Linked DNA regions of Homo sapiens: region 1 is linked to region 2. Evidence: fine-mapped expression QTL. A gene starts in region 2. The other region holds a variant in brackets. All regions are shown on one strand. Distances are from middle to middle.

Region 1 (13,995 bases), 65 kb after region 2:
GCTTTGTTGATAAATTCAATCACCTATGCTTTAGTGAACCAACAAAAGAAAATCACTTCTTCAAGTTAGAAAGAACAGAGTCAGTGTTCATACTATTTTGTATTATATAGTATTTTTCTTTTTAGAATTGCAAAGTTTGCTCTGCTTTTTCCGTTAAAAAGCCCCATTAATCTTTTAAAGACACCTTTAAGATTGTTTAAAAACAATCTTAACTCTCAAAACTCAAGAAGAAAATAAGCAAGACAGTTTTTTAAATGGGCAAAAGAGTTGAACAGACACTTCACCAAAGAAGATATATGGATGGCAAATGAGCACATGAAAAAACACGCAACATCATTCATCACTGGTAAGATGAAAATTAAAACCACAGTGCAAAGCCAGGTGCGTTGGCTCATGCCTGTAATCCCAGCACTTTGGGAGGCCAAGGCGAGCAGATCACGAGGTGACCAACATGACCAACATGGTGAGACCAGCATGACCAACATGGTGAAACCCTGTCTCTACTAAAAATACAAAAATTAGGCCGGGCGCGGTGGCTCACGCCTGTAATCCCAGCACTTTGGGAGGCCGAGGCGGGCGGATCACGAGGTCAGGAGATCGAGACCATCCCGGCTAAAACGGTGAAACTCCGTCTCTACTAAAAATACAAAAAATTAGCCGGGCGTGGTGGCGGGCGCCTGTAGTCCCAGCTACTTGGGAGGCTGAGGCAGGAGAATGGCGTGAACCCGGGAGGCGGAGCTTGCAGTGAGCCGAGATCCCGCCACTGCACTCCAGCCTGGGCGACAGAGCGAGACTCCATCTCAAAAAAAAAAAAAAAAAAAAAAAAAAATTAGCTGGGCGTGGTGGCACCCACCTGTAATCTCGGCTACTTAGGAGTCTGAGGCAGGAGAATCGCTTGAATCCAGGAGTTGGAGGTTGCAGTGAGCTGAGATCAAGCCACTGCACTCCAGCCTGGGCGTCAGAGCAAGACTCCATCTCAAAACAAACAAACAAACAAACAAACAAACAAACAAACAAAACAGGCCGGCGCGGTGGCGCACACCTATAATCCCAGCACTTTTGGGGGGCCAAGGCGGGTGAATCACGAGGTCAGCGAGGTCAGGAGATCGAGACCATCCTGACTAACACGGTGAAACCCCGTCTCTACTAAAAATACAAAAAAAATTAGCCGGGCCTGGTGGCGGGCGCCTGTAGTCCCAGCTACTCATGAGGCTGAGGCAGGAGAATGGCGTGAACCCAGGAGGTGGAGCTTGCAGTGAGCCGAGATCGCGCCACTGCACTCCAGCCTGGGCGACAGAGTGAGACTCCGTCTCAAAAAAAACAAAAACAAAAACAAAAACAAAGTGCAATACCACGACATACCCAGTAGAGTGGCTAAAATGAAAGACACCGACCATGCCAAGTGTTGGGGATGATGAGCAAGCGGAACCCTCATACAACGCTGGCAAGAATGTAAAATGGACGACTACTTTGGAAAGCATCATACGTGAAAGTTTACAGGTGTTTTATTCACCATTATCCCAAACTGGGAACACACAAATGCCCACACAGGTGAGTGGATAAACAAACTGTGGTGTATCCATACAATGGAAGAGTGGTCAGGCATTTAAAAGAAATGGGTTACTGATACACACAGCAACATAATTACATTATGCGGAGTGAAAAAAGCCCGTCAAAAAAGAGTACATACACTATATACACAGTATTTGATATGTGGATCTAGTTCCACTTCCATAAAATTCTAGGAAATACAAATAAATCTACAGTGACAAAAAGCAGATCACGGTTGCCTAGGGACAGGAAGTGAATGGACAGGGACAGGAGAGAAAGATTACATGAGGATGAGAAGAATCTTGTGAGGGTGATGAATACATTTATTATCTTAGTTACAGTTCTGGTTTCAAAGGTATATACATATGTCAGAAGTATCTTACAGTACACTTGTGTACTGTTTGTTGTATAAGCTGTAGGGAAAAATGCAAGGGTCTTTTTATTTTTTATGTTTATTTTTAATTTTTTTAAGAGATAAGGTCTCACTCTGTGGCCCACGCTGGAGTACCGTGGTGCAATCATAGCTCACTGCAGCCTTGAACCTCTAGGCTCAAATGAACCCCTTGCTTCAGCCTCCTAAGTACCTGGGACTACAGGTGTGCCACAATTCCCAGCTAATTTTTTTAGTTTTTGTGTAAACATGCTGGGGCTGTCTCACTATATTGCCTAGGCTGGTCTCAAACTCTTGGCCTCAAGCCGTCTCACCTCGACCTTCCAATGTGGTGGGATTACAAGCATGAGCCACCATGACCAGCTCAGAGCACTTTTCATATATAGTAGTAATGTCTTTAGTTAATATAATTGATTTCGACACTGAAATCTTATTATATTTTGGCCCATTCTCCTTCTCTCTTTCTCTTTCATATTATTGAATTTCTAGAATGCTATTACAACCTATTTAATGTATTTTATGTTATGTATTCATTCAAAATGAATAAAGAGCCTGTTATGGCCAGATACTTGCTATGCCCTGAGAAGATAAAGATAAGGGAATCCAGTCATTATGGTAAGGGCCTATTGTCAGCATTATGTTGAGGAAACATCTGCTAACTTCAAACCACACCTTATTTAGGCCTTTTCTTTGGAAGATGACACCACATGTTATTTTATTTTTATACTTTTCTCCATGTAGAGACATTTCTATGAAGAAGAGGAATGTATCAGAACATGTACTTCAAGCCAAAGGACAATTCTGCAAGAGAGAATGAGAAGTCCTCCCCTGGATCTGATTCTGAATCTTGATTCCAGAATTCACAAGTAGGCTCGGTAGTCACACTGGGTCTCACATGAGTGGGATCTGAGCCTAGGCCCCCTGAACCAACGGGGAAGAGTGTGACCCCAGCCAGGCTGTGATAGGGAGGGTTATAATAACACATACGCAAAAGGCCCCTCAGAGAACACTGCGGAAAGATGAGAAACTTGCATCCAGGACCAGCCTTTCCAGAGGGCAAAAAGGAGACTCTCCCAGCATTTATGTAAGAGTGCACTGCAACACAATTAATAAATATTCTGAAGAAGAGTAAACCCATGGTGAAACCCCTCTACTAAAATACAAAAAATTAGCCGGGCGTGGTGGCACACGCCTGTAGTCCCAGCTACTTGGGAGGCTGAGGCAGGAGAATCGCTTGAGCTTGGGAGATGGAGGATGCAGTGAGCTGAGATCATGCCACTGCACTCCAGCCTGGTGATGGAACAAGACTCCATCAAAAAAAAAAAAAAAAAAACGAAGAAGGAGGAGGAGGAGGAGGAGGAGAAACTACAGTGTGATGTCAACTTCTTTCTCACAACTTCACATCACTGGATAATTGTTTTAAAAAACAGAACAATAAGGCTAGGCATGGTGGCTCATGCCTGTAACCCAGTGCTTTGGGAGCCTGAGATAGGAGGATCACTTGAGGTCAGGAGTTCAAGACCAGCCTGGGCAATGTAATGAGACTCTATCTCTACAAAAAATTTAAAACAAAACAGGCTGAGCATAGATAAAAGTCTACTGGGGAGGCTGAAGCTACTGGGGATGCCAAAGCAGGAGGATTTCTTGAGCCCAGGAGTTCGAGGCTGTAGTGAGCTATAAGCATCACACCACTGTACTCCAGCCTAGGCAACAGAGCGAGACCCTATCTCAAAAAAATAAAAATAAAAAAACAAAGTCTACCACCACCCTATCACCTAAAAGCCATTATTACTGCCTCAGAAAAGTTAGCCAACTTAATGATTATAATTAAGAAAACTTTTCTAACAGAAAGTGCTATGATGATCTATTACACAAATTATTTTGAAAAACATTTTTTAAAAAATGATACTAATGAAAAAAAATCACAACAGGTATAATACAACCTAAACTCATTTACAAGTATGAAACCCCCACACATCCTAGCCTTGATTTTAAAATAATACTGAAATATTTACAAGTCAAACATTCTTAAGTTTATATATATATATATAAAATAAAATACATATATTTTTACAGACAGAGTTTTGCTCTGTTGCCCAGGCTGGAATGCAGTAGTGCAATCTCAGCTCACTGTAACCTCTGCCTCCCAGGCTCAAGCAGTTCTCAAGCCTCAGCCCCCTGAGTAGCTGGGACTACAGGTGCACACCACCACGCCCTGCTAATTTTTTTATTTTTAGTAGAGACAGGGTTTCACTATGTTGGCCAGGCTGGTCTCGAACTCCTGATCTCAGGTGATCTGCCTGCCTCGGCCTCCCAAAGTGCTGGGATTACAGACGTGAGCCACTGCGCCCAGCCTTAAGTTATGTTTAAAAAAAAACATTATAAAAGTGCAATTTTTAAAAATCCTAATGCAAGAAGACAATATGGAGACAATAAAGGGGTTTTATCCTAAGTACTACTTTGGGACCCTGGAAATGTTTTAAAAGACTCAATTGTTGCTACCACGTGACCTGGCTTCATATCTTTTTCCAGTCCAGGTTGTGGCACATGAAATCTAGAGCTCTCCTATTGCCTGCTGTGGAAGACAGAAATTACAGAGGAAGGAGAGGCTCACAGAGAAAAGAAGGAAAAATAATAAGGAAGAGGAAAGACAGAATAGGAAAGAGTTGGAGGAGAAAAACAAAAATAAAACAGGTTGAGAAAAATAGGATAAGTGAAAAAAGGAGGAAGAAGGAGAAAGAGTGATGAAAACAACATATGAAGGAAACTGAAAAGTGAGCTGCTTATGCAGATTTAGGGGTAAAGGAAAAGCTTCACCTCCGCCCTCTGAAAGATGTGCTGAACATGAATGGACAATAGCCAGGTTAATAGAAGAAAACAGCAAACAAATGTATGTAATGTGCATTAGCACAGGGGAGTCACAGAAGGATGATTACCCAGTAACCCAATGAGGCTCAGTTGCTTTTATATCCTTCTTTGTGGAGGAATGGGAGAAAAGGGAAATATGGCTATTTTTAGACGTAGTGAATGATTTATAGGGGAGATGAATGAGCCCCATGCTCAGACAATGGTAAGTAAATGATTCTCTTTGGAAATTGAATGGGATCAGAGAACAGATGATAGTTTGGGACAAAGTTCATCTGGGCTCCAGGTGTGGTGTTTCACTTTCAGTCTCCTCTGTGATACAAGCTTTAATCTTCTCAGGTTAATGAAATTTCAGGGAGGATATTGAAGGCAATTGTGTTCCTTTTTGGCGGGTCCAGTTTCTACCTAGATTAGGGAACTTCAGAGAACATTCTCTTCTTGTGCATTTGGGAGAGACAGAAGGTGAAGAGACAGGAGTTGGAGGTGGGGAGAAGGTCAGAGTGAACTTGAGGCTGCTTCTTTATTTCAGTATGTCAAAGCACCATATTTTGGGGTATCGTTTGCTGATCCCCAACATGTATGCAGTGTTTACATATAATTTGCTTCTATCTTTATAGACTGGGGTGTATAATCCAGTGGTTTTCAGATTTGCTTTCATTGTTACTATTTAAAAAGCTAAAGGGTACAACGTTCATTATTTGGGTGATGGGTAAGCTAGAAGTCCAGTCCCACCAGGATGCAACACACCCATGTAACAAACATGCACGTGCACCCCCTGAATCTAAAATAAAATAGCTAGAAGCTGGGCGTGACTGTTCATACCTGTAATCCCAGCACTTTGGGAGGCTTGGGCAGGTGGATTGCTTGAGCTCAGGAGTTCAAAACCAGCCTGGGCAACATAGCAAGACCCCATCCCTACAAAAAATACAAAACTTAACCAGGTGTAGTGGTGCACACCTGTGGTTCCAGCTACTCAGGAGGCTGAGGTGGGAGGATAGCTGGAGCCTGGGAGGTTGAGGCTGCAGTAAGCCATAATTGCACCACTGCACTCCAGCCTGGGTGACAGAGCAAGACCCTGTGTCATAAAAAATAAAAATAAAAATAGATAGAAAGTCTTATAATTTTCTTTTTCTTCTCACCCACCCATGACATTAATCTAGAATTAGGTGGAGCAGGCAAAAGAGGAGAGATTGGGCCCCTGGGAATTTGTACCGAGTCGCAAATGGCTCATGAGTTACTGAGAACCCTCACTGGAGAACACGTGCCTTGTGGAAACCCTCTTGTGATATAAGCAGCAGGGGCACCCCTGCCAGTTTCAAAATCGTGTGACAAATGGACACAGACCTGTGCCCCCCACTGTCAGAGCCTATCTGCTCTCTACAGGGGCTTCCTTTTGAAGAGTCAAGCTTCTTGCCAAGCTATCTTTCAGCCAAAAACCATTTTCCTCTAGTTTACAGGAAAAAGAGGAAGAAAAAGCCCACCCATCCTTTTCTGGGTTGATTATTTTCCATTTGAAATTAACGAGCTTCCCACGATGAAGCCAAGTTGTTTTGTTCGGATAATGAAATTGCATTTTTGCTTCACACGCAGCAATTCAAACTAACGTGGGCTCCAGCCATTTAGGGAACAGGTCCTTAGTATGGCCAGAAAGAAGGAATGCTACTGTTTTACAGAGATAAAAGTTACATTCAAATTCCTCTCTGAATTTCCCTGCGTATCATGGACAGACAAACTTACAGAGAGACTTTGTTTGTTTTTTGTTTTTTGAGACAGTTCTTTCTCTGTCGCCAAGGCTGGAGTGCAGTGATGCAATCGTGGCTCTCTGCAGCCTTCAATTCCCAGGCTCAAGTCATCTTCTCAGGTTCCCGAATAGCTGGGACTACAGGTGCAGCACCATGCCCGGCTAATTTTTTTACTTTTGTAGAGACAGGGTCTCACTATGTTGCCGAGACTGGTCTCAAACTCGTGGCCTCAACTGATCCTCCCGCCTCAGCCTCCCAAAGTACTGGCATGAGCCACTTTGCTTGGCACAGAAATACTTTAAATATTTACCCAGGATATTTCAAATATGAATCTGTACTTGACGTGTCTACAAGTGGCTGGCTAGTGTTTCCAAAGACGCACTGAAAACGTTGAAAAAATAAAATGGCGACTCCGGATAAGGTATCTGTCACCATGCTATGTTGCACAGAATGCTCACAGGAAAAGCCACACTGCTCTGTGACATTATGATCAAGGAACACGTGCTGAGTGGAGGCTCAGACCATATGGGCCTGTGCATATGGTAATCATTAAAGACTCACAGCTTACAAGAGTAACTGACAGAAAAAATATATATAGTGAGAGTCTCAGTGGTATAAATTCCTCTCTAGACCTCCCACCATATGGGGATATTTAAGTCAAAAGAATTAAGCATCAGAGCTAGAAGCTATTCCTGCACACAAGTAGAAACTACTTTCAGTGAGCAGAATCAGGAAATACGATGACTTGTCTACTCAGGCACATACTTAAAGAAAGTACCCAAACCGAAGGAACTAGAAAGACTTTCGCTTCTTTTGAAAAGAAGGGAAGTGGTGAGTGAGCTTCGGCATTCAGCCCCACCCAAAGAGCTCCCCAGACCTGGGCCACAGTGTCAGGAAATTGCAGCAGAGAGTTCAGAGAGACAGGACTAGGTCCAGCAAAGGAAAAATGATTAAGGGGTCAAAGACAGGGATAAAAGTGGCTTTTTTTCCCCAAATATTGAGTTGGAGTCTTTATTTTTATTTTGTATTTTTATTTATTTTTATTTTTTGAGACGGAGTCTCGCTCGTTAGCCCAGGCTGGAGTGCAGTGGCACAATCTCAGCTCACTGCAACCTCTGCCTCCTGGATTCAAGCAATTCTCCTGCCTCAGCCTCCTGAGTAGCTGGGATTACAGGTACGCACCACCACACCCAGCTAATTTTTGTATTTTTGGTAGAGACGAGGTTTCACCATGTTAGCCAGACTGGTCTTGAACTCCTGACCTCATGTGATCCACCTGCCTTGGCCTCCCAAAGTGCTGGGATTACAGGCATGAGTCATCCTGTCTGGCCAACTTGGAGTCTTGAATGAAAAATAAGAGATACATTTTCAAATTCATGCAAAGTGCAAGCATTTATCTTTGGTAAGCATGGGTTTGCAATCTGAAGAATCTGTAGATTTTTCAGGTGAAGATGAGCAGAGTAGGAAGCAAATATTGTACTTTGACCGATTTTTTTTTTTTTTTTTTTTTGAGACGGAGTCTCACTCTGTCACCAGGCTGGAGTGCAGTGGCACAATCTCAGCTCACTGCAACCTCCACCTCCTGGGTTCAAGCCATTCTCCTGCCTCAGCCTCCTGAGTAACTGGGACTACAGGTGTGCACCACCGCACCCAGCTGATTTTTTTGTATTTTTAGTAGAGACGGTTTCACCATGTTGGCCAGGATGGTCTCGATCTCCTGACCTTGTGATCCACCTGCCTTGGCCTCCCAAAGTGCTGGGATTACAGGCGTGAGCCACCGCGCCCTGCTGGCCAATTTGATTTTAAGCAAAAGGTTTCATTTTGTTACATACCTCACCGTGCTCTGGCCACATCCTAGAAGATGGTGACACCATAAGAAGGGGCCAGAACACATCCTGAAGCAATATACTAGTCACTGTCACCTTCACCCCCATGCCTCAGAAAGTAAATTTACACCCCACCAGGGAGCAAAATTACACTCACATACACAAAACATGAAACGCCGAAGCATCCTATTGTGGAAGTCAGTTTTAACATAAGAAGAAAAGTCTATGCCTTCAAGAAATATTTATTAGGGCTGGGCCCAGTCCCTCATGCCTGTAATCCCAACACTTTGGGAGGCCAAAGTGGGAGGATCACGTAAGGCCAGGAGTTTGAGACCAGCCTGGGCGACATAGCAAGACTCCATCTCTAAAAAAATAAAATAAAAATTAGCCAGACAGGGGCTGGGCGCGGTGGCTCACACCTGTAATCCCAGTACTTTGGGAGGCTGAGGCAGGTGGATCACGAGGTCAGTAGGTCTCTACTAAAAATACAAAATTTAGCCAGATGTGGTGGTGCGCATCTGTAGTCCCAGCTACTCGGGAGGCTGAGGCAGGAACATTACTTGTACCTGGGAGGCGGAAGTTGTAGTGAGCCGAGATTGTGCCACTGCACTCCAACCTGGGTGACAGAGTGAGACTCCATCTCAAAAAAAAAAAAAAAAAAAAAATTAGCCAGACATGGTGGTGCACACCTGTAGTCCCAGCTACTCAGGAGGCTGAGGTGGGAGGATCACTTGAGCCAAGGAGTTTGAGGCTGGAGTGAACTATGACCACAGCACTGCACTCCCTTCTGGGCAACAAACCAAGGCCCAAAGAAAGAAAGAGAAAGAGAGAGGGAGGGAGAAAGAGAGGATGGAAGGAAGGGAGAAAGAGAGAAAGAGAAAGGAAAGAGGGAAGGAGGGAAGGAAGGAAGGAATGAAGGAAGGAAGCAAGCAAGCCAGGTGGTGGGTAGTGGAAACAGTGAGTGCAAAGGCCCTGGGGTAGGAGGTATGTGCTTGAGGAACAGCAAGAAGGCATGCAGGGCTGGAGTGGAGTTAGTAACAATGAGTTCATTTCACCTGAAGTCTCCCTTTTAAGCAATGAAATTGAATGCCAAAGAAGTGAATTACCTAATTAATTGTAGCTTCTATC[C/G]AAAATGATAAGTGGTAGCAAACCTGAATTCACACCCTCAGTCCTTGGCAGAACCATGCTAAGTCTTCTGGGACTGTTGCTAGTCCATCTGGTGCCTTTGGGCAAATTAGAAAATGGTGTTCCTTCCTCCAGGCAAAGGCCGCTGCATGACCAGGTGCACTACTTGGCAGATGGTGCTTGGCCTGGACTTCACCTGTCATTTGCCCCCACAGTCAGGCACTCTCAGCTGGGCCCAAACTGCACAGCAATATGCATTGGCCAGAATCAACAGCATCTTTTCCATACTGTTATATCTCCCCTAGTATTGATCGAATCATTCCCCAAGCCAATGGTTTCAAGTTTGAACTCTTAGTTAATTCTCATCATATAGTTCATTTTGCAAGAGGTGTGCAGCACCATGCTGCTTTGAACCATTTGGTAGGTGTTGCAAATAGTTGAATGGTGGAAAAGTTGAATCTGTTTGGCCACAGATGGACTGTAAGATGTGTATTGGATTCCCTTTGCTGCTGTTAAAAATTAATGCAAACTTAGTGACTTAAAACAACACAAATTTATTATCTTATGCTTTTGGATGTCAGAACTCCCAAATTCAAGGTGTCAGGAGTTGCATTGCTTCTGGAAGCTCAGTGGGACAATTCATGTACCTGCCTTTTCTGACTTCTAGGAGCTGCCTGGATTCCTGGACTCCTTGACCCTTCCTCCAGTTTCAAAGTCAGCAATGCAGCACCGTCAAAGGGTTCTCTCTCCCTCTCTGTCACACACACACACACACACACACACACACACACACACACACACTCACCCCTGCTTTCATCATCAGGTTGCCTCCTCTGACTCAGACCCTCTGCCTCCCTCTTATAAGAACCCTTGAGATGACACCGAGTCTGCCTGAATAATCCAGGAAAATCCAGGATAAGCTCGCCATTTGAAGATCCTACATCTAAAAAGTCCCTTTGTCACATTCGGTGACAAGGCAGCGTCTGGGAATTAGGATGTGGACATCTTTCGGGGGCATTATTCTTCTGACCACAAGATATAATAAAAAAGTACACTCCCTGAGAAGGCCCCTTGTTTGACACTGTTCCTGGCCTTAAGAATTGTTTTAGATGTTCATTCTTCACCTCTTGAAGGCTTTCTGATTTTTAAAGAATTCACTGATAAAAGACAAATGCTGTTGGGAGCACCATTCATGGTAGCAAAGATATGGAATCAAACGGTGCCCATCAGTGGTGGACTGGATAAAGAAAATGTGGTGCATATACACCATGGAATACTATGCAGCCATAAAAAAGAATGAGATCATGTCCTTTGTACAACATGCATACAGCTGGAGGCCATTATCCTAAGTGAATTGATACAGGAACAGAAAACCAAATACCACATGTTCTCACTTGTAAGTGGGAGCTAAACATTGGGTATATGGGGACATAAAGATGGCAACAATAGATGCTGGGGACTACTAGAGAGAGGAGAAATGAGGAGGGCAAGGGTTGAAAAACTATTGGGTGCTATGCTCACTACATGGGTGATGGGATCAACTGTACCCCAAACCTCAGCATCACACAATATACCCAGATAACAAACCTGCACATGTACCCCCAAATCTAAAACAACAGTTGAAATTTTTAAAAATTAAAAAAATAACCCAAATGCTTCTGGGAGGGAGAACATGTTAAGTGTTATCTGTTAAGACTTGAGAGAGACGAAAAAGACCCAGGGAAAGAATTAGAGAATGTAAGGAGGGGTGTTTGGGCACTACGGGCAAAAAAAATAATTAATTTTCAGTTTTGGCCAAGAGCTAACTTGCCGCCTTAGAAAGAGCAACGCGTCTGGGAATAAGGAATCTCAAATTCTAGTCACTAATTAGTCGTTAATTGCAGAAATTGCATTTAGTATCTTTGTGTCTTTCCTCACGATGAACTGAGAATAATAGCTAATCCCTTGGGCAGTGAGATGACACTTAAAAACCTGAAGTAGAGCTGGGCACAGTGGCACACGCCTGAAATCTCAACTACTTGAGGGGCTGAATCGGGAAGATCCCTTGAGGCCAGGAATTTGAGACCAGTCTGGGCAACAATGTGAGACTCTGCCTCTTAAACCTTTTTTTAAATTCACCATGTGTGCTGGTGCACATCCGTAGCCCTAGCCACTTGTAAGGCTGAGGCAGGAGGATCACCGGAGCTCAGAAGTTTGAGGCTGCAGTGAGCTGTGATCGTGCCACCATACTCCAGCCTGGGCAATAGAGCAAGACCCTGTCGTAAACAAAAAACAAAACAAGAAACAACCCTGTATGTAAAAGCCCCTAGAAAAGCTTAACAAACTAGCAAATATTCCTTTTGTGATAGGTCTTTGACATACACCATCTCTTTTCATGCTCGGAAGTGCTATTTGAAGCAGGTGCTATCATGACCCTCATCTGACAGGTGAGGAGACTGAGGCTTGGGCTAAATAACCAGAGAAAGGTCATGCAGCGAGGAAGTAGCAGAACTGGGATGTGAACCTGGAATTATGTAACTTCAGGGTCGCTACTTTCTATCACTATAAAGTATTCTGCCTGCAGGCTGGGCCCAGTGGCTCACGCCTGTAATCTCAGCACTTTGGGAAGCCAAAGCCAGCAGATGGCTTGAGTCCAGGAGTTTGAGACCAGCCTGGGCAACATAGCGAGACCCCATCTCTACTAAAATTACAAAAATTAGCCGGGCATGGTGGCGCACGCCTGTAGTCCCAACTACTTGGGAGGCTGAGGCAGGAGGATTGCTTGAACCCGGGAAGCAGAGGTTGCAGTGAGCTGAGATTGCACCACTGCACTCCAGCCTAGACCACAGAGTGAGACTCTGTCTCAAAAAAAAAAAAAAAGAAATATATATATATACACACATATATATACACACATATATATACATATGTATATATATATGTATGTATATATATATATATTCTGCCTGTAAAACCTAGGTGGGAAATCTGGAGACAGCATTTGGGTGAGGTCATGGCAAGGTGGCAGAGAAAACAAAGCAAGCTCGTATTTTAAAATTCCAAAAGGGGGCAATTCCAAGGTGGTTGATGTTTGAAAGAATATAGTTTAGGATTTGGCATTGTGAGCCATTTTAAAATCCAGGCAAAAGAGATGGAAATTAGCAGCACCTGCTCTTCCCTGGGTCCCCTGCCTCTCCCTGGGTCCCCTACCTCTCCCTGGGTCCCCTGCCTCTCCCTGAAGCCTCTGAAGAGACCCCCAAAAAAGGCCAATTTCAGGAGCCACACAGTTATTTTGTCTGTTAAATTATCAAACACTCACATCAGGACTCTAGAAAAGAAGAAAAGGAAAGAATAAAATCTTGAAGATATCAGAAGAAAGAATTTATGAATGAAAAATTACAAACCAGGCCATCATTTAAATAAACAAATACATTCGAATGGAGTTATTTGAATAAGAAAACTCCTCCATCGACATAGTCTAATTTATGAAATTGTCACTGAGAAAAACATAAATGAAAGAAGAAAAATTGTAAGAAAAAAATCAAAATCATTGGAATAGATTAGACAAATAAGAGACCATTATGGACAATTTATATTTTAAAATAGACAAATGCACATTTTCAAAAAATTAACAGCAGAAGAGATACAAAACTGGAAAAAAAAAAACAAAACAGGAATGTATTTCCCTGACCTGGGTCCCACTAAATCCTCCCATGAACATTCCAATGAGAACACAGTTTCCATCTCTGTAGCTTGAACTCCTACCCTTGGCTTCCTCCCTTTCTCCATCCACCCTCTCTTTGCCCAGCACAGACCCCACCTCACCCCACAGCCCTTCCTGCACCGCCACCCCATCCCATCCGCCCCTCCAAAGCTACCCTGGCATCTTGTGGAACTCAGGCTCAATTATAAACAAGTTTCCTTACAAGTTAATGTATTCTATTAGTCATTTACTTTTTAAACTATTGTGTTAATTGTGAATAAAACAGAGCAAAATCCTTGTTCTCTGATAACTTACATTTTAGTTGTGGAAGGCTGATAATTATAATTATGATATAAATATATAGGTACAAGTATTATACATAAAATATATAAATATATAATATAATGCATAATACATAAATTCATAATCAATATATTTCCAAATGGTTAGCATTTCACCATTCAGGTGCACTTACCCTTCTGAGACCTTACAACTACACAAGTTCTGTCTGCACACAGGAGAAATTTTATTCTGGAACTCAGCTAAATGCTACTTGAAATTTTTTTTTTTTTTTTTTAACGGAGTCCCTGTCACCCAGGCTGGAGTACAGTGGCACTATCTCAGCTACTGCAACCTCCCCCTCCCAGGTTCAGGCAATTCTCCTGCCTCAGCCTCCCAAGTAGCTGGGCCTGGCTAGTTTTTTGTTTGTTTGGTAGAGACAGGGTTTCACCATATTTGCCAGGCTGGTCTCGAACTTCTGACCTCCAGTAATCTGCCTGCCTTGGCCTCCTAAAATGCTGGGATTACAGGCAT
Region 2 (16,728 bases):
GGACCTCCCCTCCCAGACCGACTGATCAGAAATTCTGGGGCTGGAAGGCAGCTGCCTAAGGTTTCACAAGCCCTCCGTGTGATCCCAAGGTATGCTAAAGTTTGAGAACCACTGGTAGAAATTTTTCATACTAAGCATAATGTGAAAGGTGAAATTACTACCATTTTGAAACTTCTAAAATATAAAATTTGTATCCTATTTAAAATGACTATGAAGAAACGAAAACAGTGTTAGTTCATTTCCTCACTGCTCAACTTCTTTCTCCCAAACTTGACAAAATGCCTAATCTCTATCCTGATTATACTATGTACAAAAAGGGTACTCTGATGAGCGTTAGAGCACAGAGGTCTGAACTCACTCTTCAGAAGTAATCAGAAGCCATAATAGGAAGAGAAAAAAACAATATTTTGAATATCAGCAGAAGCTTGATAAATCTTGGGCCATAACTCCAAATTTTGATCCCAGGCTCAACTCCAAATTTTTACAACATGACTTCAACAGTCTTCCCAATGCCAAAAAAAGAAGTTACAACCCCGAGAAATATTTGATTAACAAGATTCAAACTGCTTTAAGTGCACATACAGAGAAACTGTCCAAGAGTGTGTTTTTATCAGGAGTGAAGCTAAGGAATGCCTAATTACACATCAGACCCTCTGACAATATTCACAGCAAAAGGGGTTAACGTTATCCCTGTCCCTGCACACACCTGCCGTGTACGGCATCCTACCTGATCCTTCTCTTTTCAAAGCTATATCTAGACCGGGAGACTTTTCTCCCCAACTCAAGTACTCAATTTGAGCAGTACAGCTCTATGTGTATTCAAGTTTGCCTATTTCTAATAAGGCCTTTTTTTGTTGTTAAAGGGATGGAAGAAAGAGTATGAGAAATAAGTATATTCAAGCACCTACCATAATCTGAAATCTTCCATAAGCCAAATAACTCTCTGAAGCTATTCACTCGCATACTCAAGTCATTAATTTTATAAATTTCAGGTTTCTACTTATTCCAAAAATTTAAAACATAAAATTGAAGATTAAGGAGTACTTAGTCCAAGCTTGGACCACAGGAGAGCTATAAACCTGTCTTAAAATGCTTAATGACCTGATTAAGGTCATCAAAGGTAAAGAAAACTCTAGGAAGCAGCCTTTTAATCTGCCTGGCTACTTACAACCACCCACCTTTTCCATGCCCACGCTCTCCTAAGGGCTGAAGGCACTGCCAAGAATGACCTTCCTAGAAGGGCTGAATCCTATTTATTTTCTCTCTCCCAAATCTCCACCAAATCCCCTAAGAACTGGCAGTGTTCTGGTAAGAAACAATTTACTATTGCTCTCCTCCCCACCCACAGTTCAGTGCAACTGAAGTGAACACACACACACCCCAACCACTGAAAGACTTTCTCACTTAGATTCCTATCCTGCATTTTCAAAGTCCAAAGTTGTCTTCAAAATATCTTGCAAAATGCAGTCGTACCAGCTAGTCTTTAATCTCCACTAACATTGCCAGTTCTATACCCAAAATGGATATCGCAACTGCTATGTATTTTCATCTCCCTTCTCTAACAATCAGTAACAAGCAACCCAATCAGTAATAAACAAGCCTGACAAATAGCTCCTAAATTCACAGAGAAAAGAATGGTCTCCTCTCTTTCATAAGTAAAGCAAGCTGATAATGTTCTAGTAAATAGAAAGACTAAATGCCTCTTCAAGAAAAAAACATTTATATGCCTGGAAAAAACATCTTGGGTTTTTTTGTTTTTGTTTTTTTACTTAAGTATCTGTTCATAGTAGGTAGCAAATAATCTTTCCACACATATGCACTTTACCAGTTCTTTTAAAGACTCAGTAATCTAAGAAAGCAAAGCATAAGACTATGCTGAAAGAGCTAAGCCGCAGTTTACATAAAATTTAAACAAAACACAAGACATTAAAAAAATTCAACTACTCATAAATAAAGACCAATAAATCTACACTTTGGTCTGGGTTTCTGAACACAGGAAGAATCAGAGGGTTCAATAGGAGAGGTTATTTCTGAAATCGTAGGCATACCTTGAAGATATCACATGTTCCATTCCAGACCACCTTAGTAAAACTAACACTGCAATAAGGTAACAGAAATGTTTCTGCTTTCCAAGTGCATATAGAAGTTATATTTACAGTATACTGTAGTCTATTATGTTGGCAATAGCATTAGCTCTTAATTTTAAAATGCTTTATAATTTTTTTAAAATGCTAGTGATCATCCGAGCCTTCAGGGAGTCATAATCTTTTTGCTGGTGGAGGATTTTGCCTTGATGTTGATGGCTGCTGACTGAACAAGGTGCTGGCTGCTGAAAGATGGATGGCTGTGGCAATTTCTTAAAATAAGAAAACAATAAGGCCGGGCGCTGTGGCTCACGCCTGTAATCCTAACACTTTGGGAGGCTGAGGTGGGTGGACTGCGTGAGCTCAGGAGTTCAAGACCAGCCTGGTCAACAGAGTGAAACCCCATCTCTACTAAAATATAAAAAATTAGCCAGCTGTGGCAGTGTGCACCTGTAATCCCAGCTACTCAGGAGGCTGAGACAGGAGAATCTCTTAAACCTGGGAGGCGGAGGTTGCAGTGAGCCAAGATCGTGCCATTGCACTCCAGCCTGGGCAACAGAGCGAGACTCCGTCTCAAAAAAATAAAAAAAATGAAGTTTGCCACATCAACTCACTCTGCCTTTCAGAAAAGATCTCTCTTTTGGTAGCATTTCACCCACAGTAGAACCTCATTCACAATTGAAGTCAATCCTATCATACCCTGCCACTGCTTTATTAACCAAGTTTACAGAATATTGTAAATCGTTCATTGTCATTTCAACAATGCTCACAGCATCTTCACCAAGAATAGACTCTCTCTCAAGAAGCCACTTTCTTTGCTCATTCAGAAGAAGCAACTCTTCATCCATTCGAGTTTGATAATAAGATTGCAGCAATTCAGTCATATTTTCAGGGTCTACTTCTAATTCTAGTTCTCAGTATACTATTTCCACCACATCTGCAGGTACTTCTTCCACTGAAGTCTTGAACCCCTCAAAGTCATCCATGAGAGCTGGAATCAACTTCTTCTAAATTCCTGTTAATGGTGACATTTTGACCTCCTCCTTTGAATCACAAATGCCCTTAATGGCATCTAGAATTGTGAATCCTTTCCAGGTTTTCAATTTACTTAGCCAAGATCCATCAGAACAATCACTATCTATGGCAGCTATAGCTTTACAAGATGTGCTTCTTAAATAATAACTCTTGAAAGTTGAAATGACTCCTAGATCCATGGGTACAGAGTGGATGTTGTGTTAGCAGGTATGAAAACATTAATTTCCTTGTACATCTCCATCAGAGCTCTTGGGTGACCAGGTGCATTGTCAATGAGCAGCACTTGTTCAATGGTACCCTTTCTTCTGAGCAGTGGGTCTCGACAGTGAGCTTAACAGATTCAGTAAACCACGCCATAAACAGATGTACTGTCATCCAGGCTTTGTCGCTCCATTTATAGAGCACAGGCAGAGTAGATTTTGCATGACGCTTAACAATTTTTGGAATGGTAGATGAGCAGTGGCTTCAACTTAAAGTCACCAGCTGCACTAGCTCCAAACAAAAGAGTCAGCCTGGCCTTTGAGGTGAAGCACTGACTTCCTTCTAGCTAAGAAAGTCCGAGACGGCATCTTCTTCCAATATAAGGCTGTTTCATCTACACTGAAAATCTGTTGTTCAGTGTAGCCACCTTCATCAGTGATCTTAGCTAGATATTCTGGATAACATGCTACAGCTTCTATATCAGCATTTGCTGCTTCACCTTGCACTTTTACATTAGGGAAGCAGCTTCTTTCCTTAAACCTCATGAACCAACCTCTTCTAGCTTCCAACTTTTCTTCTGTAACTTCCTTACCTCTCTCAGCCTTCATCGAATTGAAGAGAGGGTTTTGCTCTGCTGGCTTAAGGGAATGTTGTGGCTGGTCTGATCTTCTATCCAGACCACTAAAACCTTCTCTATATTAGCAATAAGGCTGTTTCACTTTCTTATCATTTGGACGTTCAGCAGAGTAGCACTTTTAGTTTCTTTCAAGAACCTTTCCTTTGCATTCAGAGCTCGCTTGTTTGGTGCAAGAGGCCTAGCTTTTGGCCTGTTTCAGCTTTTGTCATGACCTCCTCACTAAGCTCACTCATTTGTAGCTTTTTGATTTAAAGTGGGAGACACGCGACTCTCCATTCACTTGAATACTTAGATGCCAATGTAGAGTTATTAATTGGCCTAATTTCAATATTGTTGTGTCTCAGGGAATAGGGAGGCCTGGGGAGAGGAAGAGAGTTGGGGAATGGCCAGTTGGTGGAGATATCAGAACATATGTAACATTTATCAGTTAAGTTCACCATATTATATAGGTGCAGTTCATGGAGCCCCAAAACAATTAGAATCGTAACATCAAAGATCACTGACCAGAGATCACCATAACAGACAGAATAACAATGAAAAGTTTGCAATATTGTGAGAATTACCAAAATATGACAGAGACACACAAAATGAACATACACTATTGGAAAAATAGCACCAATCGACTTGCAGGGTTGCCAACGAACCTTCAGTTTGTAAAAAACACAGTATCTTCAGAGAGCAAGCCTGACTAACAATTTCCTTCACTTTAAATTCAAAATGAAGGAATACCCTTTCCTTCCGAATGTATCTCATTTAACAAAATTCAAGACTTTTTTTTTTTTTTTTTGAGACGGAGTCTCGCTCTGTGGCCCAGGCTGGAGTGCAGTGGCACGATCTCAGCTTACTGCAAGCTCTGCCTCTTGGGTTCAGGCCAATTCTCCTGCCTCAGCCTCCCGAGTAGCTGGGATTACAGGCGCCCACCACCACGCCCGGCTAATTTTTTCTATTTTTTAGTAGAGACAGGGTTTCACCGTGTTAGCCAGGATGGTCTCAATCTCCTGACCTTGTGATCCGCCCGCCTCGGCCTCCCAAAGTGCTGGGATTACAGGCGTGAGCCACCATGCCTGGCCAAAACTCAAGACTTAAGTCATTCATTACAATTTTGTCTGAATTGCAATTAGGAGAGAAACAGCTGCAGTACCTTTGTATCTTTGTCAGTGAAATGTTTATAACAAGGAAAAACAAAAATCTGTTTGAAATCTCCAGTAAGCGCCCCCCAGTGCACCATCTAGTGGAAGTCAGGTAGTGTCATAATTAATTTAAAGAAAAAAGTCACAGAAACTCTGAAAACCATTGGGGGAGGGGGAGAAGTCAAAGCTTCAGGTAAGAATACAAGCAAATACTTTACAAACAGCCAAAATATCTTTCCAGTGTCCCACAATGCAAGAGGGCTGGGCTTATGAGAATAAATGATTCATTTTCTGTATAATCAACAGATGATAAAAGTTCCTTTATGGAAATTTTTGCTTGGGTGCTAGAAATTTTGACAGGAGAGTAAAAGTTAAATAAAGCCACTAAAACATAAATAAGTAAATAAATGCTGGGCTAGAGTGACAGCCTTGTGTAAGAAGAGTTGCCTTATATGTTACATGAATATGTTAAAATGTACATGTGAAACAGAGGTATTAGCCACAAAACAAGAGATAACTTCATGATTAGAACAGTTACATTCAGGCTGGGTGCAATGGCTCACGCCTGTAATCCCAGCACTTTGGGAGGCCAAGGCAGGCAGATCACTTGAGGTCAGGAGTTCGAGACCAGCCTGGCCAACATAGTGAAACCCCATCTCTACAAAAATATTAAAAAAAAAAAAATAGCTGGGCGTGGTGGCATGCGCCTGTAGTCCCAGCTACTCAAGAGGCTGAGGCAGGAGAATCACTTGAACCAGGGAGGCAGAGATCACAGTGAGCCACAGCACTCCAGCCTGGACAACAGAGTGAGACTCCACCTCAGAAAAAAAAAAAAAAAGAGTTCCATTCAGTAATCCATAAGACATTTTCATGTTCCTGATAACTAGTAAATTTAACAAAACCTAACGATTCTCTAGAATTCCCTAAGCCTTAACATCATACAAGCGGCTACTCCCAACTACCCATTTCAGCCTGTCCCACACTAATGCCCAAACTCCTTTGGTCAAGTTATTCTAATTAAGAAATTATTCTTCAATCCGTCTATAAATTTACAGTAAACACTTCCCGAAACAAAGTCATAAGTCATGATCAAAATGCATTACACTTCATTAGTATTTTCCTTCTGCATATCAATTATTTCTATTCAATTCAAAAAAAGGTACCGAAATTCAATGCTGAGCTAGAGATGCAAACACAAATAAGGTTCTCTAATTTGGAAAGCTTCCCAAAATTTAAAATAGAGATTTTCACACAGCATTCCTAACTTTTGTTTGTTTTGCCTGTGTGGAAAATTACCTTTCACCTGAAATTCAAACTAGCTAAGCAACCTGAATGGAAAGAAAAACCTCGCAGATAATATTTCTTTACTTGAAAATAACCATCTCCACCTCTGACCTGTGTATACGGGATCAAATTGGTATGCAGAAGTTGGCTTGATGGCGGGAATCTTACCCAGATTTTGGATTAAATCCATTATAGGTATAAAATAAAGTAGGAGTAAAGTGGGGCAGGATTCCTTTCATTTCTAGGGCTTTCAGTTGACATACCTGTAAAATGGACATGCTATGCACAGCCTGCCTCAGAAGAGTAGGAGGATGGCATACTATATAATTGATAGAGTGCTATGAGCTTCACGATTAAATGGAAATACTGTTTTTATAGAACCAGAGTGAACCTGAGCATAGAAAACTCTCCAAGGGCCATCGCTGTGACATTACCGCTAAAACTCAGTGACCTTCATCAATTCACTTGTAAACAAGCAATATATTGAGCAAGTCAAAGGAAAGGCAGCAACAATTCAAGATACTTCTTTATAAGTAAATCAAATTACGTAATTAATAGCCCAGGATTTACCTGCAAACTATTACTGCCTGACTAGCAGGTGCATCCCCAAAGCCTCGAGTACAGAGACTGTTTTTAGAGAGCCCCCCCTTTTTTAAATGTGAATATTGCTTTTAAAAATTAGAAAAAGAAAAAAATCACAATTCTACTCCCACCCATGGCACAGTGACAGAAACAAGGTCCCACCCCCACAATCCTTTCAAACCTGCACAGGCATTCCTCACGAACACTCCTCCCCCTCATTCCTACCTCACCGCTCCCCACTTCAGCCCAGACAAAGCTGAGTTACTCGGCTGGGTCTACCTGTCACTTAAGAAAAAGCCCCCAAATAGATTCACGCTAAATGCTGCTTTTAATTTTTTAAATAGCAAATAAGTAAATAAATAATGCTATCGTGTAGATTACACGGCCAAACGCCTGTTCTCAGAAAACATGTAATTAACACGACCCAAGTGAAGACGCCTTTCTGGCTTAGGGAAAGAAAAAAAAGAAGCCAGCCAGCTTATCGCTCCCTTTCAGTCGGTTCTTTTCCCCGGGGAGCCGGACTCTGACTCAACTCCGCAGTTTTTCCTCCACCTGTCGGTTCTCCCCGCTCTGGGTCTGCCCCGCCGCCGCCCCCGCCCGGAGTCCCGCGCGTCAACAGGGGTCTCCAGGGGTCCTCAGGGTCCCGCCCGAGGCGGCCCCGCCCCTGCCCCGGCCCCGCCCCCACCTCCTCACAAGGTGCCCGCCGCGGGCTCCCAGGCTGAGGCGCCTAGAGGCCGGCAGGAGGCTCCGGAGGACCGCGGCACCGCTCGGCCCGGTCGCCGGCGCAGGGAGCAGCTTCGGGGGCCGACCCCACCGCCCGAGCCTAGCCCTGGGCTCCGACAGGCGCTCCCCAGAGGCGCCCCATTACCTGCTCTGGGCTGCCGCGGTCCGCGGGCAGGAGGCGCACTCGCTCTGGCCCCTGCAGCCCCGGGCCCGGAGGCAAGGAGGCAGCGACCGCCACCGCCGCAGAGGACAATCGGGAGCCAGCGGGCTCGGCACCGCCGCGGCGGGCGCAGAACGCACGAGCCCAGTGGGAGCCCGGCCCCCGCCTCCAGCCCGGCTAGTAACCAACACGGCCCCCACCCTCGGAGGGGCGGGACCGCGGTTGGAGGGGCGGGGCGGGGCTGCACCGCCCGCGGGTAAGAGGGGCCTGCTGATAGGCTGCGAAGGCGATAGGCGTCTCAGACTTGAAGACGCCTCTCCAGCAGAACTCCCTCATTGGTCGGCAAGAGAAAACAAAGCTGGGCTCTGATTGGTGACAGCTCTGTAGCTCCTCCTCATACCCGCAGTCCCCGCAAGTTCCACCCCTGCCCGCCCGGTTCGCTCGCCCTTGGTTCCCACTCCCAGGTGGCTGCAGACTGGAGTGTGTTTCATGGACGAGCAACCTCCCTGAGGAGAACCCCGGATACGCAGGTTCATTCGCCAGATGCGAGTTTTCTTAAGCCGCTGCGATTCTCTGATTTCAGTATGAACTTGGTGAATAACGTAATCTTTAACTTCCTTTGGATTCAGACAAGTCTCCTAGGTTTAAAAATGCTGCATAAGATTGAGAGGGATATTGTTATGCACGAAAAAAGACATAAGGTGTTTTCACCTTTGGCGACACTGTAGGTGACTTTTTCTTATTACCTTTTTGTGTTCCATATTGAACATGTACTACATGATTAGAAAAAAAAATTCTTAAATAGAAAAATGAGTAGGGTGCGGAGAATGGTAAAGACAAACTTTAAGGAAATCCAGAGAACTGATTCTTTCACAATAGAAGAAAATACAGTAAACATGCTTAATATCTGAGGGCTACCCCGAAAAAACATGAACTGGTATCAGCGCCCTTCAGCTCTCTTAAAGAACTTTACATATGTGACCGAGGTGCCCCCATACTCCTTCCTATCATGTAACCAACACATAATGTGGACAGCACTACACTGCAAACAGAATTACAGGAAGACTCTTATAGGAAGAATTAGAATCCAAAGTACACAATCAATAAAGCTTTAGAAAAAGGGGTAGTAAAAAGCAGAAGACAAAAAAAAATCAGGTAATATAAATTGGAAAGCTCAGCTGATGGAGGGAATCATCAGAAAAAAAATAATGTGACAACACTTCAAGATGTGATAGAGACTTTGAATGGAAAGCTGAAGGGAGAGGAAGGGGATTGAGATAAGGATCAATGACCTGCAGTTAATATGAGCTCTCAGAACACATCCCCCAGAACTGGTGTCAGCCTAGAAGGCAAGAAGCATTTCTCACCTAGGGACCACTCTCACTTAACTCTCTCTAGCTGCCTTAACATTCTGTTTGTTCTTGTCATTCTCGCAAAGTTCTAAAACAGGCTATTTGAAATTAAGCACTTCCCCCCAGCAACTCCGTGAATTACGTAATAGTGAAAAATGGAGATAGACAAAAAGCAAACCTGAGGAAGGAAAGGAATGTTAAGGTAAACATAAACTTAAAGAGAAGTAAGGGCAAAACACCTGATAGAAAGAAGACAAGAAATTCTTTTTTCTCTCTTACTTCCTGAGAATAAAGTAAAGGTCTTTGGAGGACAGAATAACCTTATTGCCTAACAAAAAGAGTTTTTACCAAACCTTTCTAATAATAACTGTAATTCTAAACTGTAGTCTAAAAATACGTGTCCTAAAGTAAGTACTTTGAGCAAATAGTTTTGAGATCTAATATTTTTACATTGTGTAAGGAAAAGAAGAGGAACTTAGCCTAGTATGAACAAACTGTAGGGAATACCCTTCAAAAGTTTCTTCTACAATAACACCTGAAATTCCATCACTAACATTCTTTCACTGGGATTAAATAATGTATGTCTAAGATTATTCTTTTATTCATTTACTCATCAAACGTAATCAATATTAATCATCAAATACTAGATACTGCAATGAACGAGGCTTTCTACTAAGCACTCAGAGTATAGCCTTGAACAAGACAGACTTGCAGCTGTTTTTATCAGAAGATGGACAATGATCCAATAAAAAGATAAACTTCCAGACCGGGATCAGGGCAAAGAAGAAAACAGTGACCAGAGGGATGGGAGACACACTTAATTTTGGGAAAGGAGAAAAATGCTTTAAGGAGAAATGATCTAAGAGAAATGCTCTAAGATTTGAGGCACCACCTAAATAAGAAAACACCAACTTAGCAAAACTCCAGGGCAGATAAAATAGCAAGAACAAAGGACTTGAAGTAGGAAGAAAAGTGATGTATAGCAGGAACAGAGAGAAAGCCAGCATGGGTATCATGGTGCATAAGGAGAGTGCTACTAGACAGGTTGGAGAAGGAGGTGAGGACCTCGTAGGCAATGGTAACTTTGTATTTTGTTACAAGGATTCCTGACGGGCAACATCGAGTTGCTGATAGTGGAGTAAAATCATTATTTTTTTTTTTCCTTTTTCAGAGTCACCAGTAAAATGAGCATTCATTCATTAAGCCAATCATCAGGAATGGATCTAGGAAGAACCTACTGTTTACTAGAAATAGGTTAGATCTGTGGATATAACAATGAATAAGACAAGACTGGTGGATCTATAGAGAAACTATTACTGCACAGGTGATGGGGAAATCAAGAGTACTATGGGGCCAAGGAGACTGTCCTGCAGCAAATGAGGAATAAGCTGAAACATCAGTAGGAGCCATCCCAGAGAAAAGGGACAGGGTTCTAGATCCAGAGAACAACAGAAGAGCATTCAGCGCCTGCAAGGGAGCAGGGGATCTAATGCAAAGCCATTGCATAACCAGTCAACTTTCCCCACATCACAAGATTGCCTAGCCTGGATGGCCCCAGAATGTTGAAACAAATGTCTAATTAGTAACGACATTCTGAATGCTTGGGAGCTGAGCAAAATATGAGGAGAAGCAACCTGATTTTTGTTTCATATTATCATCTCCTTTATTCCAGCAACAAAAGACACTGAAAATAGTAAATGCCCACTTTCAACCATGACAGCCCTTTTAGGATAGTAACGGTGAGCAGTATTAATCCTATTTGACCAGAACTAGGGCAGAATTGAAGCCCCTGGAGTAGAGATCTGTTCTATTAGCCCCAGCCTTTCCGCCTGCTTCTTGGGATGGCTATCTTTACTTTATCAGTTGAGCCTCCAGCATTAGCAGATACCTATAAGGGAAGAGATCCAGCCCTCACTATGGAGGGCCAGAAAGAGAAAGCACCAGACATTAGGAAATGTCAAAGTATCTCAGTACATCCAGCTGATTAGTGACAGATAAGTCAAAATTTGCAGCAACTAAATAAATCAAAAAGTAGATTTTAAAATGTGATCTTTGAAATATTTGGCACAATGCTTCAAAGCCACTGAAAAGCTATCTCTTCACCCTAATAGAGGACAGAAATTCATTAGATAGACAGAAGAGGCTGCATACAGTAGCCCATGCCCATAATCTCAACAACTTTGGAGGCCAAGGTGGAAAGATTACTTGAGGCCAGGAAATCAACACCAGCCTGAGCAACATAGCAAGACATCTTTACAAAAAATTTAAAAATTAGCCAGGTTTGGTGGTGTGCAGCTGTAGTCCTAGCTACTCGGGAGGCTGAGGTGGGAGGATTGCTTGAGGCCAGGAGTTCTAGGCTGCAGTGAACAGAGATTTTGCCACTGCGTTCCAGCCTGGGCAACAGAGTAAGACCCTGTCTCTAAAATAGATGATAGATAGATAGAGAGAGAGAGAGAGATGATAGATAATAGATAGTTGATAGATAGATGATAGATAATAGATAGTTGATAGATAGATAATAGATCGTTGATTGATAGATTAGATAGATGTATAATAGAACCCAAAGGCAAAAATAAGTTAGTCCTCAGGAAGACCCAGATCGCAGACCTGAAAAGCCAGGAGGAACTCAATGGAATTTTTTTCCATAGCAGGTGCTCTCTCTACACCTGTGCTCTATTCTCCTATTCTGATAACCAGCCCCTGGCTCCTATGTCCCAGTGTCAGAGAAATGATGTTCCAGAGCTGCACCCACAAGGACTAAATCACCTGCCTAACCCTAACCCTAATCATAGATGATGGGGGCTGCAGGGGACCAGTATGGCTGCCAGGGCCCATCCCTGTTTATGAGCAGAGGTTTCCCAGAGAAGACACACTGGGCAGATTACCAGACACGCATTCATTGCACCCCTGACATTTTCAATCGCCAGTCAATGAGGCTTCCTTTCTAGTTACTGAAAGTCTTCACCTGCTGTTTATAGTAAACTGGAGACCTAGAGGCCAAGGCCGAAGGCTTGGATGGTAATTTCCCACATTCTCTGGAAATCTTTCTACTTCAGTTGGCTTCCAGACACCCAGTACCCTTGTGTGTTCCAGTTTCAAGTTGCCATTCTTGTTCAGGTCTTCTAGTAATTTCCTGTTTCCCTATCTGAAGTGTACCTCCTGACATCAATGTATTCAAAGAGCAAATGCTCCTGCCAAATCTATGAGTGTCAGTGAACTAGCCTGCTGCTCTGGGCTCAGATGAGACCAGCTTGCAGAACAAGCAGGACAGAGGCGTGAAGGGAAGCAGATGGCAAACCTCGATCTGCCACCATCCCTTCCACAGGCATTCCGTATGAGGACATCTGTCCCCACCCCTGGATGAAAACTTGGGTGATCCCGAAATTTTTCTGATTGCTCACAGGTAATAAAAATCATTTGGTCAGTTTAAATCACAATATACAGCTTTAATTTTAATGTAAATGCCATTGATCAACACTTTCAAGCTTCATTCACAGTTAAACTTTCCCTCTGCTTCCCCAGAAAGGGTCCCATGCAGCCAAGCTATGGAACTCCAAAAAGGGGGAAAGGATCCTTCTCTCTATCCCCCTAGAATCCCCTTCAAATTCAGGTTGCAAAAAGAAGGGGGAAGAGTCCAGGACTAGCAAGTTCATGCTTAACTGGTGCATTGCTAGCAGGGGTTGCTCTCCAAGCCTGGACAATGACTAAAATGTGCGCTTCCTTCTTGGGTCTTTTCTTGGGTTCTTAGAGACCTGTACTTGAAACATCCAACTCCACTTCTCTTGACCTGAGCAATGCAATTTTCTCTAACACTTCCCCTCGCTTTCTCATTCCCTGCCAGTCACTTTATAGTCTCCTGTTGCAGGGGAAGAAGGGAAATGGTCGCTAGGCTGCTCCAGGTGATCCTTGTAGGCAGGATTTAAACTCCTTCAGCCCAGCTGTCTCTTAACAAACAGCTGTTATCTGGTCCTTCAGACATTCATCCATACTTTACGCCCATGGTTGGTAAAAGTGCAGCTGGCTGTGTGCAGACTGGTCTTCAGTGTTCTCTCTCTCCACCACTGCCCCACTGCTGCCTCAAGCCAGTATCTTCAGCCTCTCCACTTGAGATTTGTCTCCAAATACCAGGGGACACAAATCAAGTTGCCTTCATGGTCTGCCTCACTGACACTGCCTCTCTAGTGAGTTTAAGGAGAAAGGTCTCAAAGAAGCAGGAGTAACAGAATTGCTTTCTTCAGAGAAAACATCTTCATAGATTCTTTCCTGAACTCCACTTCCTCTGCCCTTTTATGATCCTATTTTGGGTGAGGCACTTTTAAGAGTCACCAAGGGGCTAGGATATTTCCTTTTAAGATTTGCTTCTTGCTCTGACAACTTATTTTGGAATGTCACACCTATTAATTATCTTGGTGTGGTAGTGCACACCTGTAGTCTCAGCTATTCAGGAGGCTGAGGCAGGAGGATTGTTTAAGCCCAGGAGGTTGAGGCTGCAGTGAGCTATGATCACGCCATTGCACTCCAGCCTGGGCAACAGAGTGAGACCCTGTCTCAAAAAAAAAAAGACAACAACAACAAAAAAGAATTTCACATCTATTGTCTCTTCCTGCTTCAGTCAAAACTTTCTTTTTACATTTTTCTATATTGATGTGAATCTGTAAAAACTGCTCTTGTTAATTAACACCAAGGACACGGACTAAGAAAATTGGAAAACTCTAAAACTAGTCAGAAACTGCTATTTGATGATCAATGAGAATGGAACACCCACTCTTGCCTGGATGATTCAAGCCTGAGGATCACTTGACCCAAGGAAGCAGTCTTTATTTCCAGCCTTCAGTTCAGAGATGTGGGGACCCAGCATTCCACATTTAACTTTATGGTCTCCAAGGAAACAGAACTCTGAATCTGTCACACCAGAACTCATGTTAATAAAAATATTACTAAATGTTAAGAAGATACTACTCACATCACCTGAGGTCAGGAGTTCAAGACCAGCCCGGCCAACATCGTGAAACCCCATCTCTACTAAAAATACAAAAATTAGCTGAGCGTGGTGGCAGGTGCCTGTAGTCCCAGCTACTCAGGAGGCTGAGGCAGGAGAATTGCTTGAACCCGAGATGTGGAGGTTGCAGTGAGCCAAGATCCCACCACTCTACTCCAGCCTGGGCAACAGAGTGAGACTCCATCTCAAAAAAAAAAAAAAATGCTACTCACAGCCTTGCTCTGCTTTCAGTCTATCACAACACTGTTTCCTTCCAATTCCTTCTCCCAGTTCCTACAAGAAGGCTACTTTTTCCCTTGGTGAGACCCTCTGTGGGTTCCTTGGAGCACTCCCCCTTGTTACAAGCTCATAAACCCAACCAAGTTAGACTGCAGGTTTGTCTCTGATGGTGTTTGGCTGTTGAACTTTATCATTAACAACCTGATATCATTTGGATGTTTTCCCCTGAAAATCTCACATTGAATTGTGGTCCCCAGTGTTGGAGGTGGGGCCTGGTGGGAGGTGTTTGGGTCGTGGGGGCGGATCCCTCGTGGCTTGGTGCCATCCTTCTGACAGTCAGTGCGTTCTTTGGAGATCTGGTTGAGTAAAGTGTGTGGCACATCCCCTCCCTGGGGATTGGCTCCAGGGTTGGCTCCAGCTGTCATCACATGATATGCCTGATCCCCTTTCCCCTTCTGCCATGAATAAAAGCTCCCGGAGGCCGCCCCAGAAACTGAGCAGATGCTGGCGCCATGCTCATCCAGCCTGCAGAACTGGGAGCCAATGCCAATTAAACCTTTTTTTTTTTTTTTTTTAAACGGAGTCTTGCTCTGTCACCCAGGCTGGAGTGCAGTAGCACAATCTCGGCTCACTGCAACCTCTGCCTCCTGGGTTCAAGCAATTCTCCTACCTCAGCCTCCCAAGTAGCTAGGATTACAGGCACCTGCCACCACACCCGGCTAATTGTTGTATTTTTGGTAGAGACGGGGTTTCACCATGTTGGCCAGGCTGGTCTCGAACTCCTGGCCTCAGGTGAGCAGCCCACATCGGCCTCCCAAAGTGCTGGGATTACAGGTGTGAGCCACTGTGCCTGACTCTTTTCTTTATAAATGATCCAGTCTCAGGTATTCCTTTAAGTAGTGCAAAAATGGCCTAACACACAGCCAGTTCTTCCCAGCTCAGGTTCCTGCTCCACTCTCCCATGTTCTGTCTTCATGCCTGCATCTCCTCCTGTTGCGCTGTCACACGAACTCGTTGCCACCATGGTACCATCACGAATCACCCAGAATCCAGCAACTTTCAATTATATACCATTAAAAATACCATAAACATGTGCATATGCAGGAACAATCATATTAATAGTTTCAAACATAAGAAAAAACTAATTTCCTTATACCATTAATTTGCAACAGTATTAAAATTACCTGAAGAGCCTTTTCAAATTATACAAGCACTGAGATGCTAATTCAATGCTTCTTAACAGGCTCTCCCCAAATGCACACACCTGGATCTACCTCATTACAGCAGTGATCCTGTTGGTGATGGTAGAGGACCCTCAGGTATTTTTGGGAAAAAGCTATAAACCACTTTACCCTGCACTGATCTGATAGACTCATTGGAATTCTAAGTCTATAAGTGTGGGGAATATATTTGGTTGGTGCAAAAGCAATTGCGGGTTTTGCCATTTAAAAGTAATGGCAAAACCCTTAATTAATTTTGCATCAACCTAAAATATTTTTCTCTTAGCTAAAATTACAGGTTTGATCTTGCTTATAAATAAAACTGTCCCCACAATGTCAGGGGCTTTGACTTATTCACTATGGGATCCCCAGTGGCTTACAGGTTGGAGACATAGCAAGAATCTAGTGAAGATTTACTGAACTAACTCATTTGGAACTCATTTTAAAATGAAAGAGTTTTCATCAACCAGTTGTACCTGAGCAAGAAACATTTATCTAAAGTATTAGCAGTGACTGTGATCCATTATATTTATTTTTTTCTATTTGGCAACCCTTCAAGATTGATTTTCCATGTGGTTTGCAATTGGCTGCATACTCAAGGACTTCTGTATGTAAACTGAGAGTGATCTAATAATTCTGAGGCATACGGGTGTGAATGACAGCATGATGTGTGGGTGTCTGAAGTTGGATTGCTAGCGACCTCATGAATACCTCTATACCAATTTATATGTGGTCCCCAGCATAGTATGTGACCATATGTGTTACAGTAACATAGTCAAGAACTTCTTAAATAAAACACAATAAAGAGACTGATAATTACGTAAATGCTGGTATGCTAACCTGAGGAGCCTCTGCCTGTTTGTGATTTAGTCTTTGATTATTCAAACAAGTTGTGTCCGGTAATATATATGTCCATTTGATTGAAATATACATATAGCTGAGCATGGTGGCTCATACATGTGATCCCAGCAATTTGGAAGGCTGAGGTAGGAGGATTGCTTGAACCCAAGAATTCAAGACCAACATGGGCAACATAGCAAGACCCCATCTCTACAAAAATTAAAAAATTAAATAGAATGCATAGATGTGTTAATACACACAC

The links. PIP is the estimated chance that this variant, and not a neighbour inherited with it, causes the effect.
Region 1: its variant is fine-mapped to the expression of MPP7 in cerebellar hemisphere (GTEx, PIP 0.99).

What each region holds. Positions count from the first base shown.
Region 1 is chr10:28,361,008-28,375,002 of GRCh38, forward strand. No RefSeq gene overlaps it. Among named protein-coding and RNA genes, the nearest start is that of MPP7-DT, 65 kb to the left of the region's middle. The variant C/G (reference allele first, on the strand shown) is at 9,504.
Region 2 is chr10:28,295,040-28,311,767 of GRCh38, forward strand. MPP7 (MAGUK p55 scaffold protein 7) reads right to left here and starts at 8,025. Exons shown (of 17, transcript NM_001318170.2): 1 at 7,822-8,025. MPP7-DT (MPP7 divergent transcript) reads left to right here and starts at 8,130. Exons shown (of 2, transcript XR_930772.3): 1 at 8,130-9,390; 2 at 10,360-11,232. RefSeq lists a silencer at 7,572-8,211.